2 separate regions of the Homo sapiens genome follow, and region 1 is linked to region 2. The links come from fine-mapping of genetic effects on gene expression. A gene starts in region 2. The other region holds a variant in brackets. All regions are shown on one strand. Distances are from middle to middle.

Region 1 (9,831 bases), 720 kb before region 2:
CTCCAAACACCCCTGCTTGTGGTTGATTCCCAGGTTCCGTCCAATCAGACCACCTTAGAGCTGGAATAAGTCCCTCCAACATAGCTATCCAAGGAAAATACCCTTCTACCCATTCCAAACCAGATAGGATATCAAAACAAGTATTTTCTCAGGTTTTGCACCAGACCTGAACAGGTGCTCTAATCATCTGTGCTGATGCCACTGGCCCATCTCTCTGGGAACTCTGAGCAGAGTGGAACCAGGGTGGTCTGGATCTGTGCCTGGTGCATTACACCAACAGGGAGGAATGCTTGGATCCGTGGTGCCTGCATCAGGCTGGCCAATCCTGTGTGGATACTGATTAGTCTCAAAGCGAGAATGCTAAGGAAGACAGAGATCAGCCCATCTTATAAGACACAGATTCTACTGGGCGCTGTGGCTCACGTCTGTAATCCTAGCACTTTGGGAGGCCAAGGTGGGTGGATCACCTGAGGTCAGGAGTTTGAGGCCAGCCTGGCCAATGTGGTGAAATCCTGTCTTTACTAAAAATACAAAAATTAGCCGGGTGTGGTAGTGGGCACCTGTAATCCCAGTTACTCAGGAGGCTGAAGCAGGGGAATCTCTTGAACCCGAGAGGTGGAGATTGCAGTGAGCTGAGATTGCACCGCTGCACTCCAGCCTGGGCAACAGATCGAAACTCCGTCTCGGAAAAAACAAACAAAAAAAACAAAAACAAAAACAGCAACAACAAAAAAAAACAAGAAAACACAGATTCCTTCTCCCTACTGCCTTTTCCTAACCCCAGGAAACAACTTGAGCAAAGAGCTTTTCAGTCACTAATAGTTGTCCTTCCCCTTTCTGCTCCTGCCTTCAGGCTTGTTCACTCACCCTCCACCAGAGGCAAAGAAGCTGCCCCGCAGGCACTGCCTACAGCATCAGTGAGCCCCCTTGGGCTTCTCCACCCGACTGGACCCATGGCTGTCATGCCTTGACTGCCCTTCCTCCCAGGTTTCCAGTTTGCTTGGGGAAAGAGCCTTTCTCCGTATTTCCTTATTGCCAGCCTCATTCCTAAAAGGATTTGAAATGTCTGACAAAAGCACAAATGTGCAGCAAAGGAGGACACCCAGGCAGGGGAAATAAAGGCAGGAAATGTGAGGCAAAGCCACGTGAGGCTCTCATACAAAAGGCTGATTGATATTCACTTGCTAATTTGATTCTGCGTTTTCTTGAAAGAAGGAAACATAATCAACAATTCCCTTCACAGTGTCCATGAGATAAAAGCAAACGAGTTGTTTGGGAGAAAGTTCTGAAGTGCCAGATGCATCTCTGGTGGGATGCTTATTCTTTTAAGGATGTGAGCAACACCCTCAATCATGATGAGTTTTATGAGCCATACAATTATTAAAAATTTTTAACTTTCTTATTAAGATTCCTGTGAAGATCACTGGCATTTGAATTCTGATTGTCTTTAGAAAGACTTTGTGTCTTATGAAATCATGTTTGAAAACACGCTGTATTTTGTCCTTTTTCTTCCTCCTCCCTCTCCTATTTCTCTGCTCTGTCTCTCCCCTTTCCCATTCTCTTCCTCACCCTTCTTTCTTTTGTTTGAGACAGGGACTCGCTGTGTCACCCAGGCTGGAATGCAGTGGTGTTCACTGCAACCTCTACCTCCCAGGTTCAAGTGATCCTCCCTTCTCAGCCTCCCAAGTAGCTGGGACTGTAGGTGCATGCCTGGCTAATTTTTGTATTTTTTGTAAAGTTGGGGTTTCACCATGTTGCCCAGGCTGGTCTCGAACTCATGGGCTCAACGGATCTGCCTGCGTTGGCCTCCCAAAGGGCTGGGATTACAGGCATGAGCCATTGTGCCCAATCCTTACCCTTCTTGAAAGGACACTACACATTTTCCACTTTCAGGGGTCAGGGAGTTTGGGCTCTGGTACTTACTCTATGAACAGTTGTCTATGCCATTCATTGTGCTATGTGTGTCCTGTGTCTGGATCTGTCTGTGCGATTTCTGTGCTGGTGTGTTTATGCATGAACAAGAATAAGTGAAAGTATCCAGCCGAGCTACTTTACTGAGTTATGATTAAATTACATGCAATAAGCTGCGGGTAGGACTTTTTTTTAAAGCAGTGTTTCTCAAACTCAAGCATGTTTTAGAATCTCCTTAAAAGTTTGTTAAAACACAGATTGCTGGGCCTCACCCTAGAGCTGCTGATTTCATAGGTCCAGGTGGGACTGAGAATTTGCATTTCTAACAGGGTTCTAGGTGGTGTGCTGCTGTTGGTCTCAGTGTCGCTGTTGCTGTCAGTCTTGGTATCATGGAGAACCACTGTTCTAAAGAAACTTCCTTTCCTTTCCCTTAAACCATCCTAGGTTGGACAACCAGTTGTGGTCCATTTGGGAGCTCCCATCTCATTAAAAAATGAGAACATCCTGAGCCAGACAAAGATGCTCTTTGTACTTTTAGTTTCATTCTGAACCCAAGCCAGAAATCTACCTAAGCAACTCACGTGGGAGTCATGAGGAAGCAAATATTTAGACTTTACGAGCATGCGCATTCTATACTGACCAGTGTTGAATTTTTCCACGATTTTCATTTGGGCAAAGTACTATGTGTTACAATCAACCAGGTGGTACTTCTCAGATGCCTGATAATGTTCTGAAAATTAGAGAGATAAACATTATCCTGTGTGACAAATACAGGTATGTCAGTACAGGCTGGCTGAAGATCTGATTTGCTGGGTGAAAGCTCCTTTCCCAACTCTTTCACCTGAAACTAAAAGTTCTTGCTAGTGAGCATCCATTTTGGCCAGAGTGTGGCTACATCACCAACCCAAAAGGGTTTAGGGAGGACAGGGAACAAGATTTCATAGCTGCATAATACCAGGCATTCCCAGAAGTGCTTTGCCACCTTTGCTGGTATGTCTTCTGTGGCTTTACATGTGCCAGGTAAGCTGACAGCAGAACATCAGTATCCACTTGTTGTGGTTTTAAAATATGTTCACATATACAGTTGAAAGCATTCCTTCTGAGAACTGGAACAAGACAAGGATGCCCGCTTTCACCACTTCTATTCAACATAGTGCTGGAAGTCCTAGCCAGAGCAATCAGACAAGAGAAAGAAATAAAGGGCATCCAAATTGGAAAACAGGAAGTCAAATTGTTGCTGTCAGCCAATGATGTGATCATATACCTAGAAAACCCTAAAGACTCATCCAAAAAGCTCTTAGATCTGATAAATGAATTCAGTGAAGTCTCAGGATACAAAATCAATGTACACAAATCAGTAGCACTGCTATACACCAACAATGACCAAGCTGAGAATCAAATTAAGAACTCAATCTCTTTTATGACAGCTGCAAAAAATTAAAATACTTAGGAATATATATATATTTTTTTAATTTTTAATATATATTGTGCCACTGCACTCCAGCCTGAGTGAGAGAACGAGACTCTGTTGAGACACTGCTGGAGTGCAGTGGCACAATCTCGGCTCACTGCAACCTCCACCTCCTGGATTCAAGTGATTTTCATGCCTCAGCCTCCTGAGTAGCTGAACTACAGGCATGCGCCACCACACCTGGCTAATTTTTGTATTTTTAGTAGAGACCAGGTTTCACCATGTTGCCCAGGCTGGTCTCAAACTCCTGACCTCAAGTGATCTGCCTGCCTCAGCCTCCCAAAGTGTTGGGATTATAGGCGTGAGCCACCGTGCCCAGCCCCTGACTTAGGAATATACTTAACCAAGGAAGTGAAAGATCTCTACAAGGAAAACTATGACACACTGAAATCATAGATGATATAAACAAATGGAAACACTTCCCATGCTCATGGATGAGAAGAATCAATATTGTGAAAATGACTACACTGCCCAAAGCAATCTATGGATTCGATACAGTTCTCATCAAAATAATATCATTCTTCACAGAACTAGATAAAACAATTCTAAAATTCATATGGAACAAAAATGATCCTGCATAGCCAAAGTAATACTAAGCAAAAAGAACAAATCTGGAGGCAACATACTACCTGATCTCAAATTACACTACAAGGCTATAGTTACCAAAACAGCATGATACTGGTATAAAAATAGGCATATAGACCAATGGAACAGAATAGAGAGCCGAGAAATAAAGCCAAATACTTATATCCAACGGATCTTTGACAAAGCATACAAAAACATAAATTGGGGAAAGGACACCCTATTCAATAAATGGTGCTGGGAAAACTGGAAAGCCACATGTAGAAGAATGAAACTGGATCCCCATCTCTCACCTTATAGAAAAATCAACTCAGCATGGATCAAAGACTTAAATCTAAGATCTGAGACAATAAAAATTCTAGATAATAACATCAGAAAAACTCTTTTGGACATTGGTTTAGGCAAAAAATTCATGGCTAACCCCCCAAAAGCAAGTGCAACAAAAATAAAAATAAATAAATGGACCTAACTAAACTAAAAAGCTTATGCACAGCAAAAGAAATAATTAGCAGTGTAAATGAACAACCCACAGAGTGGGAGAAAATATTCACAAACTATGGATCCAACAAAGGACTAGTATCTGGAATCTACAAGGAACTCAAATCACCAAAAAACCCCCCAAATCATCCCATCAAAAAGTGGGCAAAGGACATGAATACATTTCTCAAAAGAAGATA[T/C]ATAAACAGCCAACAACTGTATGAAAAAATGCTCAACATCACTCTTCATTAGGCAGATGCGAATTAAAACCACAATGAGATACCACCTTACTCCTACAAGAATGGCCATAATTAAAAAGTCAAAAAACAATAGATGTTGGCATGGATGTGGCAAAAAGGGAATACTTTTACACTGCTGTTGGGAATGTAAATTGGTACAACCACTATAGAAAACAGTGTGGAGCCTCCTTAAAGAACTAAAAGTATATCTAGCATTCAATTCAGCAATGCCACTACTGAGTATATACCCAAAGGAAAAGGAGTCATTATATGAAAAAGACACATGCACACGCATGTTTATAGCAGCAAAATTTGCAATTGCAAAGGTAAGGAGCTAGCCTAAGTGCCCACCAGTCAAGGAGTGGATAAAGAAAATGCGGTATATATACACCATGGACTACTACTCAGACATAAAAAGGAATGAAATAATGTCTTTTGCAGCAACTTGGATGGAGCGGGAGGCCATTATTCTAAGTGAATTAACTCAGGAATGGAAAACCAAATATTGTATGTTCTCACTTATAAGCAGGAGCTAAACTATGAGAATGCAAAGGTATAAGAATGATATAATGGACTTTGGGGACTTGAGGGGGAAGGTTGGAACAGGGTGAGGGATAAAAGACTACATATTGGGTATAGTGTACACTGCTTTGGTGACAGGTGCACTAAAATATCAGAAAGCACCACTAACCACTAACCATGATCATCTAGACCATGTAACCAAAGCCTGTATAAATGAAAACCATGAGATATCACCTCACACCTGTTAGGATGGCTATTATCAAAATGATAATTATCAATATGAACCCCTGCACACTGCTGGTGGGAATGTAAGTTAGTACAGCCATTATGGAAAACAGTATGAAAGTTTCTCAAACAATTAAAAATAAAATTACCATATGATCCAGCAGTCTCACTACTGGGAATATATTCACAGGAAATGCAGTCAGTATGTTGAAGAGATATCTGCACTCTCATGTTTACTGCAGCACTATTCATAATAGCCAAGATATGGACTTAACCTAAGTGTCTATCAAAGGATTAATGGATAAAGAAAATGTGGTATATATACACAATGAAATACCATTCAGCCATACAAAAGAAAGAAATCTTGTCACTTGCAACAACATGGATGAAGTTGGAGGATATTATATTAAGTGAAATAAGCCAGGCACAGAAAGACAAATACTACACAAACTTATTCATCTGTAGAATCTAGGGGGATTGCTTTCATGAAAATACAGAGTAGAATGGTGGTTACCAGGGGCTGGGGTGGTTGTGGGCTGGTGCAAGTTGGGGAAGAAAAAAAATATGTTCACAAATTCTTTGATATTCCTCCTTTTGAAAGGTGGTACTTAATTTCCTATCCCTTGTGTGTAGGTTCTACTGAGTCTCTCTTATAATGAACAGAATATGGCAGAAGTCATATTTTACCCAAAACTTGATAACTTCTGAAGGGAAGTCATAGAAGACATTGTAGTTTCCTCTTTTTCCACTTCCTGGTATCACTCACTCTGGAGGAAACATCTGCCATGTTGTGAGGAAGATCAAGCAGCCAAGGCCAAGTGCAGTGGCTCATGCCTGTAATCCTAGCACTTTGGGAGGCCAAGGCAGGTAGATCACCTGAGGTCAGGAGTTCAAGACCAGCCTGCCCAACATGGTGAAACCCCATCTCTACTAAAAATACAAAAACTAGCTGGGTGTGGTGGCAGGTGTCTGTAATCCCAGCTACTTGGGAGGCTGAGGCAGGAGAATTGCTTGAACCCAGGAGGCAGAGGTTGCAGTGAGCTGAGACTGTGCCACTGCACTCCAGCCTGGACAACAAGAGTGAAACTGCATCTCAAAAAAGAAAAAAAAAAAAAAAAGATCAAGCAGCTTTATGGTGAGACCCATGTGACAAAGATCTAAAGCCTCCTTTCAGCAGCCCTTGAGTGAGCCACCTCGGAATTGGATCCCTCAGTCCCAGTCACATCTGCAAACCTGGAAAACACCTTCACTACAACCTCATGAAAGACCATGAGACAGAACGGCCCAGGTAAGTGACTCCCAAATTCTTGACCCACAGAAATTTTGAGATAATTAAAATTTGTTAATTTAAGCCACTAAGGTGGGATAATTTGTTACACGGTAATTGATAACTAATACATTACAATAAAACAAACCTTTATACCACCACTGCTAAGTCTCTGTACAGGTGACATTCCTTCTAAGAAACTTTCAGTGATTTTAGTACCTCAAATTAAGTGCTCACTCCACAGTTAAGCGCCCAAGATGCTCCTACATATAGCCCTAAACAGACCCAACTGGACTAATATTTGCTGTGCCCTGAACACCTGTCAGACTTTCACACCTTGGCCAGCCAGCCTGAAATTATACCCCAGGTCCCGTCTCCACTTTATAAAATCCTTGCATCCTCCAGGTCCTATCCCAAAATCCACCTTCCCCATGACATCATTTTTGAGTTTCTCAGCCAGATGCTCCTCTCTTCATCCAAACCCACATTATACTTTGTGTGCCTGCTTATTGCTCACCCAATAGCCTTTCCCCCTTTGCTTCTTGATGGCAGATCCCTGGTTTAGTTTGGGTGGTCATCCCTATTTTGAGTCAGGTCAAATCCTGTTTAGTTGAAGTCATTCATAGTGGCCCCAATTCCCTTGGCAATGACTGGTGCAGGAGTGGTCATGTGATATATTTCTGGCCAATGAATTATGAGGAGATGTTTGCTAGACAAGAGCATAGCATCCTGGGAAAGGCTTTTAGAAAGATATTATGGAAGAAAGAGTACTGCTGAATATTATCTGCATAGATATGATTTTTAGAATCATGGCAGCCACCTTATAAATCAAAGGGAGGTAGCCCAAGGATGGGTGGACGGATGAGCAGAAGATAGAAAGAACCAGAGTTCTTGGCCAGGTGCTGTGGCTCACACCTGTAATCTGAGCACTTTGGGAGACAGAGGCGGGCAGATCATGAGGTCAGGAGTTTGAGACCAGCCTGGCCAACATGGTGAAACCCCGTCTCTACTAAAAAATACAAAAATTAGCTGGGCGTGGTGGCACATGCCTATAATCCCAGCTACTCAGGAGGCTGAGGCAGGAGAATCACTTGAACCTGGGAGGAGGAGGTTGCAGTGAGCTGAGATTGTGCCACTGTACTCCAGCCTGGGCAACAGAGCGAGACTCTATCTCAAAAAAAAAAAAAAAAGGAAAAAGAAAGAACCAGTGTTGCTAGATTTTGTTGGACCGTGAGTTAGTCAATCCTGTTATTGCCCTGGACTTCATAGTATGTGAAGCCCTTTCTTAGCTGTTCTAGATTAAGCCAGTTAAGTTGATTTTGCTGTTACTTGAAGCTGAAAAGTGTTCTAATTAGCTAAAAACCCTGGTGATAGTTTTTAAATTTATTAAAGTTATCCTTGTGCTCATTTTTCTTTGTATCCAGTTATAATCTGAAGGGTAGTGATTGTATTTTGATTGAAGTAAGTTGCACATACTGAAAAATACGTAACCTTAGAGTTTGGTTTGGTGAATGTTCACAAAGCAGCACAAATATATAAATAGCACCCAGATCAAGAAATAGAACATTACCAGCACACAAAAGCCATTCTTCTACCTGCCCCGCTTTTAGACACTATCCCCTTCCAAGGATAACCACTTTCTGTACTTGTAAAGACATAGATCAGGTTTGCCTGTTTTTAAACTTCACGCTAATGGAAGCACACGGCATGTACTCTTTTGGTCTGGCTTCTTTTGCTCATTATCATGTCTGTGAGATTCACCCAATCTGTTGTATGTGTCAGTAATTTGCTCATTCTCATTGAGATACATTATTCCATTGTATAAATATACCACAATTAGATGTTCTGTCTACCATTAATGAACTGTTTGTTTCCAGTTTGGGGCTATTACAAATAGTGTTGCTAGGAATGCTCCTGTGCATTCTTTTGGTGAGTTTATGTACGCAGAGCAAGGGGCTGGATTGATGGGTCATAGGCTAGGCATTTGTTCAGTTTTGGTATGCATATTGCCAAATGGTTTTTCAGGTGTTGCCTTTTTATTCATCTTTGGATTTCTACACACACACTCACATTTCTTACCCTCTTGTCTCTTTTTACCCTAAGAAAATACTTTGCACATAGTGAGTACCTGACAAAGGATGTAACAAAGAGTGTACATATATACACACGTATACATGTTTGTAAATGCATGCGTGTATGTATACACATATATAAATAAATCCCCGTGTTGTGTATAATAGCTCAAATATAACAACAACCCTAGCAAGTCAACAATCAAACAGGCTATGCTGGGGCTGAAAGGTGTGAAGTTGGTGGGGGAATGGCTGGGGACTTCCATTCCCATCTGAGATTTGGCTCATCTACAGGTGAATTTCAGTTGCCTTTGGTCTGAATTCTGGAAGTTGCTCCAACTTACGTCTTGTGGTAGTTGACAAAATAGAAGCAAGCCTTTGTAAGAAAAGGGTGTTACTGAAGAAAGAGGTCATCCTTCTTCATGGAGAATGGGGGAGAGATGAGCCTGTTAGAGTGCTTGGTGCAGAGAACAAGACTTTTGGAGAGAGGATCGTCCAGTACAACTGCCAGGCTAAGGGTCTTAGATGCAATATTGATTTTCTTAGATCATTTAGTTTTCAACAAACTCCCTTTTCCTGCACACTTTTTCCTCATTCAACCTTTAGAAAGGACTTGGGCTGCGCATGATACGGGCACAGCTCTTCTGTGAACTGTCTCACAAGACTGGAACAACTTTCAGAATTTCTATAAAAGAAAACATTACAGTATTGGGGAATTTTTTTTAATCACAGGAGGACTCTAAAATGTGTACTGCCATTTTCTTTAATCTTGATTGACTTCATGGGAAAATTTGATGCCACTAAGAAATATATAATTTCCCACAGATGTTATATCTCTGCTATTAAATGTTGATGTCCCAGAACCCCGTGTGCTCGTGGAAGGGTCTAGAATCCATGACTTTGGCTGATCACCTACCTGTTTGCAGTTTCTAATGGAAAAAAAGAGCTCAGTGATTGCAGCCCCGGGTCTCTGTATAAGGAAATTTTGTGTGTGTGTGTGTGTGTGTGTGTGTGTGTGTGTGTGTGTGTGTGTGTGTGTTAAGGGTGATGGTGGTGAGGGGGTCA
Region 2 (9,831 bases):
TTTTGTAGGTTTTGTATTTTGCCAGATTTCCTCCCTGTTCCCAGAGGTTCACCTCAGAGCAGCAGAGCCTTGCTCAATCTCTGCCCATCCAGGAAGAAACTGAGGCAACCCTGGCAGGACCCAGAGTGGAAACACAGCTGACGCCTCCATCATGGCCCCCTGTAACAGTGCAACACTCACAAACAAAGGAAGGGAATTCACTCCTGGATTTCCCAGCAGAGCCAAGTGTGTCTTAGGAGCTGGCAAGGAAGGGAGGTGACATCTGGGAGAGGACCAGGAGCCGTCAACAACCCTGGAGAAGTTGTGTTCATTCTTACTTTCCAGATAGTAAATATTGCCTAAAGACAGAGCTAGCAGAGATTCTCAAGCCTGCTCAGGATTTCTCTAAAGCCTTCCTGCTGCTTTCAGGGGTCAGGAGCCCCTGCAGCCTTTTTTGTTTGTTTGTTTGTTTGTTTGTTTGTTTTTGAGGCTGAGTCTCCCTCTGTCGCCCAGGCTGCAGTACAATGGCATGATCTCAGCTGACTGCAACCTCTGCCCCCCAGGTTCAAGTGATTCTCTTGCCTCAGCCTCCTGAGTAGCTGGGATTACAGGCGCCCGCCACCACGCCTGGCTAAATTTTGTATTTTTAGTAGAGACGAGGTTTCACCATGTTGGCCAGGCTGGTCTCGAACTCCTGACCTAAGGTGATCTGCCCACTCCGCCTCCCAAAGCCCCTGCGGCTCTTATCCATAGATCCTGCACAGGAACACCCCCACGCAGGCCCTGGCCCTCTCCTTGTTATGTGTCCCTGAGGCTGTCCTCCCAGGACTTGGTTCACTTTCAGGTCTGCCACCCATTGGTGCATTCATTTCTGTATTTAATGTTACTGAGCACCAACTATGTCCCACACACTCTTCCAGGTACTGGGGATACAGCAGAGCCAAACAAAACCGAGAAAGTCTCTGCCCTCAAGCTTTTATTGAAGGAGGGAAATAGACAAAAGAGAAGCAAACAAACAAAAAAGGTAAAATCAGAGGGTGGTAAAAGCTATGAAGGAAATAAAGCAGTATAACTGCTTAAGGAGCAGGGACCTCTGCAGGTGGATGGCAAGGGAAGGTCTCTCTGCAGAGACGACATTGACATTCATGCTGAGACCTGGGCCAGCCATGCAAAGAAGGGGGGTGTAGGCAGAAGTGCCGCAGTGGGAACAGGCTAGAAGTTGGGCCTGGTGCTGGGACAGTCCCAGTTCAGGCATGTCCTCCTGGTGTCGTTTTTAATAGCTCATCCTTTCACAATCAAGAGTGGCTCATGCCGGAGATGAGTTACCCGCAATGAGGGGCTGGATTTATTCTAAGGGCAGAGGGAAGCCATCACAGGAAATGATGTGATTGATGTTTTGAAAAGAACTCGCTGGCTGTTCCGTGAAGAATAAATTAGAGGGGCAGGAGGGAAGAAGTCTGCCTGGGGCGGCTGCAGCAACCCAGGCGTGCTGCGAGGTGCCCTTTGACTAGATTCCAGTGGGGGCTTTCGGGCGAGCAGAAGAACCCCAGGGATCAGCTCTAGCCACGCTCAGCTCCCTGGGCCGGCCCTGGGCATTTCTGAGACGGCCCTCGCGCTCAGGGACCTCTCCTCGCAGTTCCATTGTCTGTTCTTGCGGAGTCCTGCCACACTGGGAGGGCCACCCCCTCCTCTTGCTCCCCTCCCCTCCCCGGGTCCAGCCCCTCCCCTGCCTGGCCCGGCTGCCGCCCAGCGCCAGCCAGAGCCCACCCCGCCTCCCTGCAGGAAGCCGGCTGGCGGCGCCTGCTGCGTGACCTTGGGCTGCAAAGTCGGGCGTTTGCAAAGTCAAAGCGAGTCACTTCCTCCCCCAGGCCTCCCCCGAGCGGGCAGCCGGCCGCCGCTCCCTGCCCCCTCGCCCGCCGCGGGCCGGGGCTGGCGCTGGCACGAACGCGCTCTGCATGCTAAGTGCTCGCGCCCGTTCCCGCCGCCCGGAGGCTCATTTGTCACCCGCTGCTGACTCAGCACTTCTGCAGAAGGCTTTTCCCTCCGCTTTGGAGGAGGAGGCCCGGAAATGAGGCAGAGGCTCTTCCTTCCCTTCCCTCCAGCAGGGGTGTGTGGCGTGGGTGTGTGCGGGTGTGGCAGGGTCTGTCTGTATGTCTGATGCCTGTCCATCACCGGTGTATATTTTCGCGGCTGTGTCTGTCTTTTGTGTATGGCTGAGTCTGTGTATGTGTCTTAGTGCATGTTGATCCCTGCGCCTGTCTGGTGGGTCTTTGTCCCTGTCTGTGGGCATCTGTGTTGGCCTGTGGGCCTGTCATGTGTGTGTCATACGTGTGTCTGGGTGAGTGTGTGTGTGTCCCCCCCACCCCCCTCCCTCAGCCCCAGCCTCCTCCCCTCAGACTTCACCTTGTCTCCTGGAGTGACCCTGGGGTTTCTGAGGCCAAAGTGGCACACCTTCCCTCCCCTGGCACCCCCAGCTCCCATCCCACCCTCTGCCACCAGTCCCCTAACATGGGACCTCAGGGGCTGAAAACACAGGCTCTGGAATCAGCCACATCTCCACATCTAGGTCTCAGCCTAGGCTCTGCACTTGCCACAGGGACCTTAAATGAGATACCTTTCCTGAGCCTGTTTCCACACTTATAAAATAGAGGTGATCATATCTCCCTAAAAGAGGATAATTTCATGATGGGGTCTGGTATATCACATGCAGCAAATGGTGCCTGTTATTTCTACTTAAAGCAATAGGCCCAGTGTCAGGCACATAGCCAGGGTCTAATAAACGGCCACTTAAGAATAAAAGCACCAAGAAGCCCTTTCCTTGGCTGCCAGAAAAGGGAGTGGGTGGGGAGATGGTGACCTGGATTGGGAGCTGGGCAGGAGCTGTTTGCATGACACCTACTGTGAGGAGAGAGATGTGGTGACCTGATTTAGTGCTGCCTTGGGCAGCCAAGGAAGTCAGGAAGGAAATCACAGACGAGGGGCTCGGGAGCTGCTGTGCCCTGCCCTGCCCTTCCCCAGACCACACACTGCCTGACACCCGCAGGCAGAGTGAGGGCCCAGGGGGGAGGAGCACAACTCCATGCCAGCCCCTACCTCCAGAGCAGCCCTCATGCTGTGTCCCTGGGTGAACAACTTTTTTTTTTTTTTTTTAAGACAGGGTCTCTCTCAGCCACATAGGCTCGACTACAGTGGCGCGATCATAGCTCACTGCAGCTTCGACTTCGCGGGCTCAAAAGATTCTCCCCCTTCAGCCTCCTGAGTAACTGGGACTACAGGTGCATGCCACCATGCCCAGCTAATTTTTAATTTTTTTTTGAAGGGACAGGGTCTTGCTATGTTGCCCAGGCTGGTCTTGAACTCCTGGGCTCAAGTGATCCTCCTGCGTCTGCCTACTGAAGTCCTGGAATTATAGGCATAAGCCACTTTGTCCAGCCGCTGGGAGAATATGCACATCCATTCGTTTTACCTCTTTAGCAATCTTGTGAAGGAGATTCTTAGCATCCCCATTTTGCAGCTGAGAAAAACTGAGACTGGGAGGTTAAGTCCCAAGGTCACAGGACCGACAGGTGGCTGAGAGAACCCTGGCATTCCAGCTGCCAGTCAGGCACTCCCTGGTTGTCTACACTAGCTGCCGTCTTCCTGGGCACACACAGAGGAATCAGCACACACCCGGTACACCCTCCCATGAGCAGAACTCCTACACACTGGCTGGTACCATACCCTCCCTAACACCAGCACCCGTAGCAAATTCTTTCCAGGGCCAGCCAAGCCCTACTCCCCTTTGTTAAAGGCAGCTTTCCTCAGAAGGGTGAGCATTTGTTGTCTCAGGGCCTGCAGTGTGGATTCTACCTTCTTTTTACTGTGTTCAGCAGGAGCGAGGCAAACCAGCTTGGGATAGAAACACAGGCGTTTCCTCCACTGTCAGGGTTTTCCTGGGGCAGGCATCTGAGTTACTGCCTGGACCCGGTAGCCCCTAGCAACAGGGCACCACTCTCACCTGGGCCATTTATGATGACTTTGGGAGGTGGAGCCAATTAGGGGGCAAAGCAGGGATCCCCACAGGTGGGAGTGGCAAAAGAGTGGAGGCTTGAAGTCCAGGAAACCCCAGTGTATGCCTCTGCTGCTAAGGAGCCGTGTGGCCTTGGGCAAATCACTATCCCCTTCTGAGCCTGGGGCTCCACATCTACATAGTAAGGGAAGTGGCACTCATGTTCCTTCCAGTTCACACACAGTCCCACATGCTACTAGACCTAGGTTAAGGCAAGGTCTGTGCTATCAGGTACTACCATAGACACAGAAACCGGGGGAGACTCTGCCACCATTATACCCACCCACCCCAACCCTCAAGTTCCCAGCTCTTCCTGGGAAAACCGACAGACAACAGGCCCATGTAGGCAGAAGAAATCAACATGAGGGGTCTCAGTGCCTAGAGAATAGACTTAGAATGAGCCCAAAGTGGAAGGGAGAACCAAAGAGTTTCCCTCACTGCCACATTTGGCACTCCTGCTCCAGGGAATCCAGCACTGAGCTAGAGACAGGATGCTGGGTTCGCCATTCAGGATTCGTAGGTGAGGCCACAGCCATTTCTGCTTTCGGGGCCTGTAACTGGTGGAGAGAAACGGGTGATAGCATCTGTGGCCTTCCTGATTCATAGGTTTATCCCAGCATGAGGCGTGGCTGCTGCAAAGCAGACATGTCCATTTCTGTCCAGACACAGTTGGGGCGGGCAGTGGGTGGCTGCAGCCTGTCCTTACATGGGGCTAAAGGGGCCCAGCCACTTAGTGACTCACCCACTTGCCCAGCCAGCTGAAACCCTGGCCTCACCCTTCCCTTCTGCTACCTACAAAAGCCCCCTGACATAGCACTCTTGTCATACTGAGACTAAGGTAGAAAAAGACACTTCCAAAGGGTGTCAATGACAAGAGAGAAATAGACATAGAGTGGTCACTTCATTTACCAACCCTGGAACCGCAGACCTCTGGGCTTCCTGGTATGTGATTTCAGTTTTACCCCTCACTGTTTAAATTGCTTGAGTTATGTATTTTGTTATTGATTTATTTATTTATTTATTTATTTATTTTGAGACAGCGTCTCTCTCTGTCGCCCAGGCTGGAGTGCAGTGGTGCGATCTCGGCTCACTGCAACCTCCGCCTCGCGGGTTCAAGCGATTCTCCTGCCTCGGCCTCTCGAGTAGCTGGGATTACAGGCATGCACCACTACACCTGGCTAATTTTGTACTTTTAGTAGAGATGGGGTTTCGCCATGTTGGTCAGGCTGGTCTCAAACTCCTGACATCAGGTGATCCGCCTGCCTCGGCCTCCCAAAGTACTGGCATTACAGATGTGAGCCGCCTCACCCGGCTTGTATTTTGTTCTTGCAGACGAAAGCTGCCCACCAAATATGAACAGATAGGAACCTCGTGATCTTTTGGGGCTGTCATCCTTCTCTCAGTCTGCCAGTAACTGGGATCCTGGCATTTATCCTGGAGGTCCCTGAAGGTCCAAGAGGGAACAGAGGAAATCTGATTGGCACAGGTGTGGTGACGTGAAGCAGGTGGTGGCTTTTAGGACTGGAGGTCTGGTGTAGGGTGTATTAGTGAGGAGAACATGGAGGGAGGAACTCACCAGGAAAATTGCAGCCAATTTCCAGCGGTCAGGAATTGAAGATCCAGCAGAGTACGGAATCAGCTCCTCCAGAGTAGTGGGTTTTTCCAGTTGTAGGTTGAGATCCATTCGTGGGTCATGAAATCAAGTTAAGGGATCATAGTCATACACAGAATTTTTTTGTTTGTTTGTTTTTGAGACAGTCTCATTCTGTCCAGGCTAGAGTCTCTAGTCTCTGCCCAGGCTAGAGTGCAGTTTCACAGTCTTGGCTCACTGACCTCCACCTCCTGGGTTCAAGTGATTCTCCAGCCTCAGCCTCTCAAGTAGTTGGCGTTACAGGCACCTGCCACCACATCTGGCTAATTTTTTGTATTTTTAGTAGAGACGGGGTTTTGCCATGTTGGCCAGGCTGGTCTCGAACTCCTGGCCTCAAGTGATCCGCATGCCTTGGCCTCCCAGAGTGCTGGAATTACAGGCGTGAGCCACCACGCCCAGCCAGAATTTTTTTTAAAAAAAGGAAATAGAAGAGAATGTAAGAATAGAAGTGCAGGTTAAAAGGAACGTTTAATTTCATAAAGTTTTTGCCTCAGGGTAGTATGCTTGTCTGAGTAATGGGTTGAGATAGGAACGCATTTCTTAGTGCAGGTCTTGATTTCAAATGTTCGAAAGCCACTGCTCTGGAAAATAGAGGAGTGGAGACCAAAGTGTGCCCTTTGTGTATGTGTCGGCAGTGGGGTGGGGGTGGGGGTCTCTGTCCTAGCATTTGGTTGCAGCACCCCAGGAGTGCCTGTAGGGGAACCACTGACCTCCACTTTTCCATACGCTTCACACCTTCACACCGAAATGTGCTCCATTCCCTTTGCTATTTTTTTTTCTTTTCTTTTTTTTTTTTTTAGACAGAGTCTAGCTCTGTCGCCCAGGCTGAAGTGCAGTGGCACGATCTCGGCTCACTACAACCTCTGCCTCCTGGGTTCGAGTGATTCTCCTGTCTCAGCTTCCTGAGTAGCTGAGACTATGCCTGGCTAACTTTTGCAGTTTTAGTAGAGACGGGGTTTCACCATGTTGGCCAGGCTGGTCTCAAACTCCTGACCTTAGGTGACCTGCCCACTTCAGCCTCCCAAAGTGCTGGGATTACAGGCGTGAGCCACCTCACCCAGCCTGCTATTTTCATTAGGAGGAAAAGAGGGATGGTAGCTTTCATCCAGATCCCCCATCTTCAGAATGTTTTCAACTTTCCCCAGAACCTCCACAGCGTTAAGTCAGTCAAAATCCTTGGATGGACCCTTCCAAGTAGCAAGGGCCACCCTGTCCCCTTTCCCCTGGCCATGAGACCACGCAGAGCGCAGGGGCCGGAGTCAGAAAGGGCAGTTTGGCCCCTGGGCAGTCTCCTGAGAGTCTTTCTCCTCCCAGTTTCTACTATTTGGCGGAACCTTGAATGCAGGGGGGCGGGACAGAGAAAAAACTAGAAAGCTCGACTTCTGCCTGCGGGGCCGGAAGCCCCGCTGCGGCCCCAGCCCGCGGTTAGCCCCTGTTTGTCATTTTGCAAATCTGGTCAACCCACCTCCGGTGAAAACTCCCAACCTCACCCCAGGGGGCAATGACTAATTACAAAACACATTTTCTCTCGTTTTCGTCAAGCTCGCTGTCCCGCCCACACATCCCCCGCCTATCCCGGCACCCGTCGGCTTCCTCAGGAGCCTCACTCAACTGTGTTGAATGAACTCTTGGCCTGGTCCCTCCCCCAGAGACTTCACACCGTGGGGTTCTTTCCTCCCTGCTCAGCTTTACTTTCACTTTCTAGTCACTCTCACTTCTCTGTCAGCTTCAGCTTCTCACCCTAGAGCTTGAGCCCTGGTCCTTTCTTAAGGCAGGGGCTATTGCCCAAGTCCTGGGCTGCACCCAATTCGTCAAAAGTCTCGATTCATCAATAGTCAAAAATATTTATCAAATGCATTCTGTTCCAGGCTCTAGGAATGCAGTGCAAGACAGGCAAGGTTCTTGCTCATACAGAGCTTCTAGAAACCTGGGATACAGAGATGCAATCAAGTGATAAAACACATGGATGAAGGCTCTGCCATTGAACACATGGTTCTTGACAAGCCCACAGAGAGGCACAGCTAAGCCAGCCCTGGGGAGCCAGGGAGGGTTCCCTGGAGGGAGAGAAGCTGGATCCAGGTCTGAAAGATGACTTGAAGTCAGCCATGAGCAAGGAAGAGATTTTCCAGGCCAAGCGAACAGCCTGTGAGTGGTGCCATTTGGGTGAGGCTGGCTGGAGCTCACAGGGTGGGAGGGAGTGCAGGGAGCTGGGGTCCCCAAAGGTGGAAAGAAGCCAGACCCAAAAGGACTTTGAAATTCTGCTCAGCCATTTGGATTTTGTCCTGAGGGTGATGGAGATTTGTGAGCCCCAAATATCTGAGACAGGTCCCAGTCCCTTTAGAAAGTTTATTTTTGCCAAGGGTAAGGACAAGCCCATGACACAGCCTTAGGAGGTCCTGAAGACAGGTGCGCAAGGTGGTCAAGGTACAGCTTGCTTTTATACATTTTAGGGAGATATAATACATCAATCAATATATGTAAGATTTACATGGGTTCTGGCCGGGCGCGGTGGCTCATGCCTGTAATCCCAGCACTTTGGGAGGCCAAGGCAGGAGGATCACCTGAGGTCGGGAGTTCAAGACCAGCCTGACCAACATGGAGAAACCATCTCTACTAAAAATACAAAAAAATTAGCTGGGTGTGGTGGTGCATGCCTGTAATCTCAGCTATTCGGGAGGCTGAGGCAGGAGAATCATTTGAACCCGGGAGGCAGAGGTTGCAGTGAGCCAAGATCACGCCATTGCACTCCAGCCTGGGCAACAAGAGCGAAACTCCATCTCAAAGAAAAAAAAAAAAAGATTTACATGGGTTCGATCTGGAAGGACGGGACAACTCGAAGTGGGGGGCTTCCAGGTCATAGTTAGATTTGAACATAAACTGATTGGCAATTGGTTGAAAGAGTTATTGTCAGCAGAAAGGAATCTCTGAGCTATGATAAGGGGTTGTGGAGACCTAGGTTTTATCATGCAGTTGAAGCCTCCAGTAGCAGGCTTTCGAGAGAATGGACTGTAAATGTTTCTTATCAGACATAAGGTTTGTGTTGATGTTGATGTTAGGGGTATAATGAGGCTTGGCTTCCCTTCATGGCCTGAACCAGTCTTTCAGGTTAAATTTTAGACTGCCCTGGCTGAGGAGGAAGTCCATTCAGATGGCTGGTGGCTGGGGGGTGAGGGGTGTGGGGTGTTCCATACACAGCCATGGAAGGGCCTCAAGCCAGAGAGACATAATAAATGGAAGTGGGAGGCAAGACTGGACAAAGAGAGACCCGTCAAGAGTTTGTTACAGGCCGGGTGTGGTGGCTCACACTTGTAATCCCAGAACTTTGGGAGGCCAAGGCAGGCGGATCACGAGGTCAAGAGATCGAGACCATCCTGGCCAACGTGGTGAAACCCCGTCTCTACAAAAATTAGCTGGGCATGGTGGCACGCGCCTATAGTCCCAGCTACTAGGGAGGCTGAGGCAGGAGAATCGCTTGAACCCAGGAGGCAGAGGTTGCAGTTAGCTGAGAGGGTTCCACTGCACTCCAGTCTGGCGACAGAGCCACACTCCGTCTAAAAAAAAAAAGAAAAAAAAAGAGTTTGGTTGTTGCAGTGGGAAGATGTGAATGGACATGAGAGATATATTTAGGAGACAGGATTGTGGATATGGAGGTTAGAGGAAAGGAAGAAGGGAAGGATGACTCCAGGTTTCCTGCACAAACCATGGTCCCCCCTGTTCCCTACAGGAGGAAGAGTTGGAAGAAGAAGAGCGATAGATAGAGAGAGGAGACAACAAGGTCCCTCTGGGACAGGCTGAATTCCAGATGTCTGTGGGACACTAGGCCATTGGCTATGGTGGTCTGAGACCCTAAACAGGGGCCTGGGATAGGGTTTTAGTCTGGTCACCATGTACACACGGAGGCAGGGTATAGAGTGAGAAGATGGGATGATTGAAAGGCCTGGGACACGAGCCAGGGAAACGCAGGATAGAAATGACTGGCAGAGGCTGGGCACGGTGGCTTACGCCTGTAATCCCCACACTTTGGGAGGCCGAGGTGGGTGGATCACTTGAGGCCAGGAGTTCAAGACCAGGCTGGCCAACGTGGAGAAACCCCATCTCTACTAAAATACAAAAAATTAGCGGGTCATGGTGGCATGCACCTGTAATCCCAGCT

What was found. PIP is the estimated chance that this variant, and not a neighbour inherited with it, causes the effect.
Region 1: its variant is the best candidate, but not a certain one, in a credible set for the expression of LINC01629 in lung (GTEx, PIP 0.54).

What each region holds. Positions count from the first base shown.
Region 1 is chr14:76,236,656-76,246,486 of GRCh38, forward strand. All of the region lies in intron 2 of LOC105370575 (a long non-coding RNA gene), which reads right to left. Among named protein-coding and RNA genes, the nearest start is that of GPATCH2L, 90 kb to the left of the region's middle. The variant T/C (reference allele first, on the strand shown) is at 4,642.
Region 2 is chr14:76,954,785-76,964,615 of GRCh38, forward strand. LINC01629 (long intergenic non-protein coding RNA 1629) reads left to right here and starts at 4,854. Exons shown (of 3, transcript NR_133913.1): 1 at 4,854-4,969; 2 at 7,547-7,823. RefSeq lists enhancers at 1,224-1,293, 1,542-2,076, 4,455-4,634, 4,675-4,744, 5,827-6,361 and 5 more and a silencer at 1,634-1,993.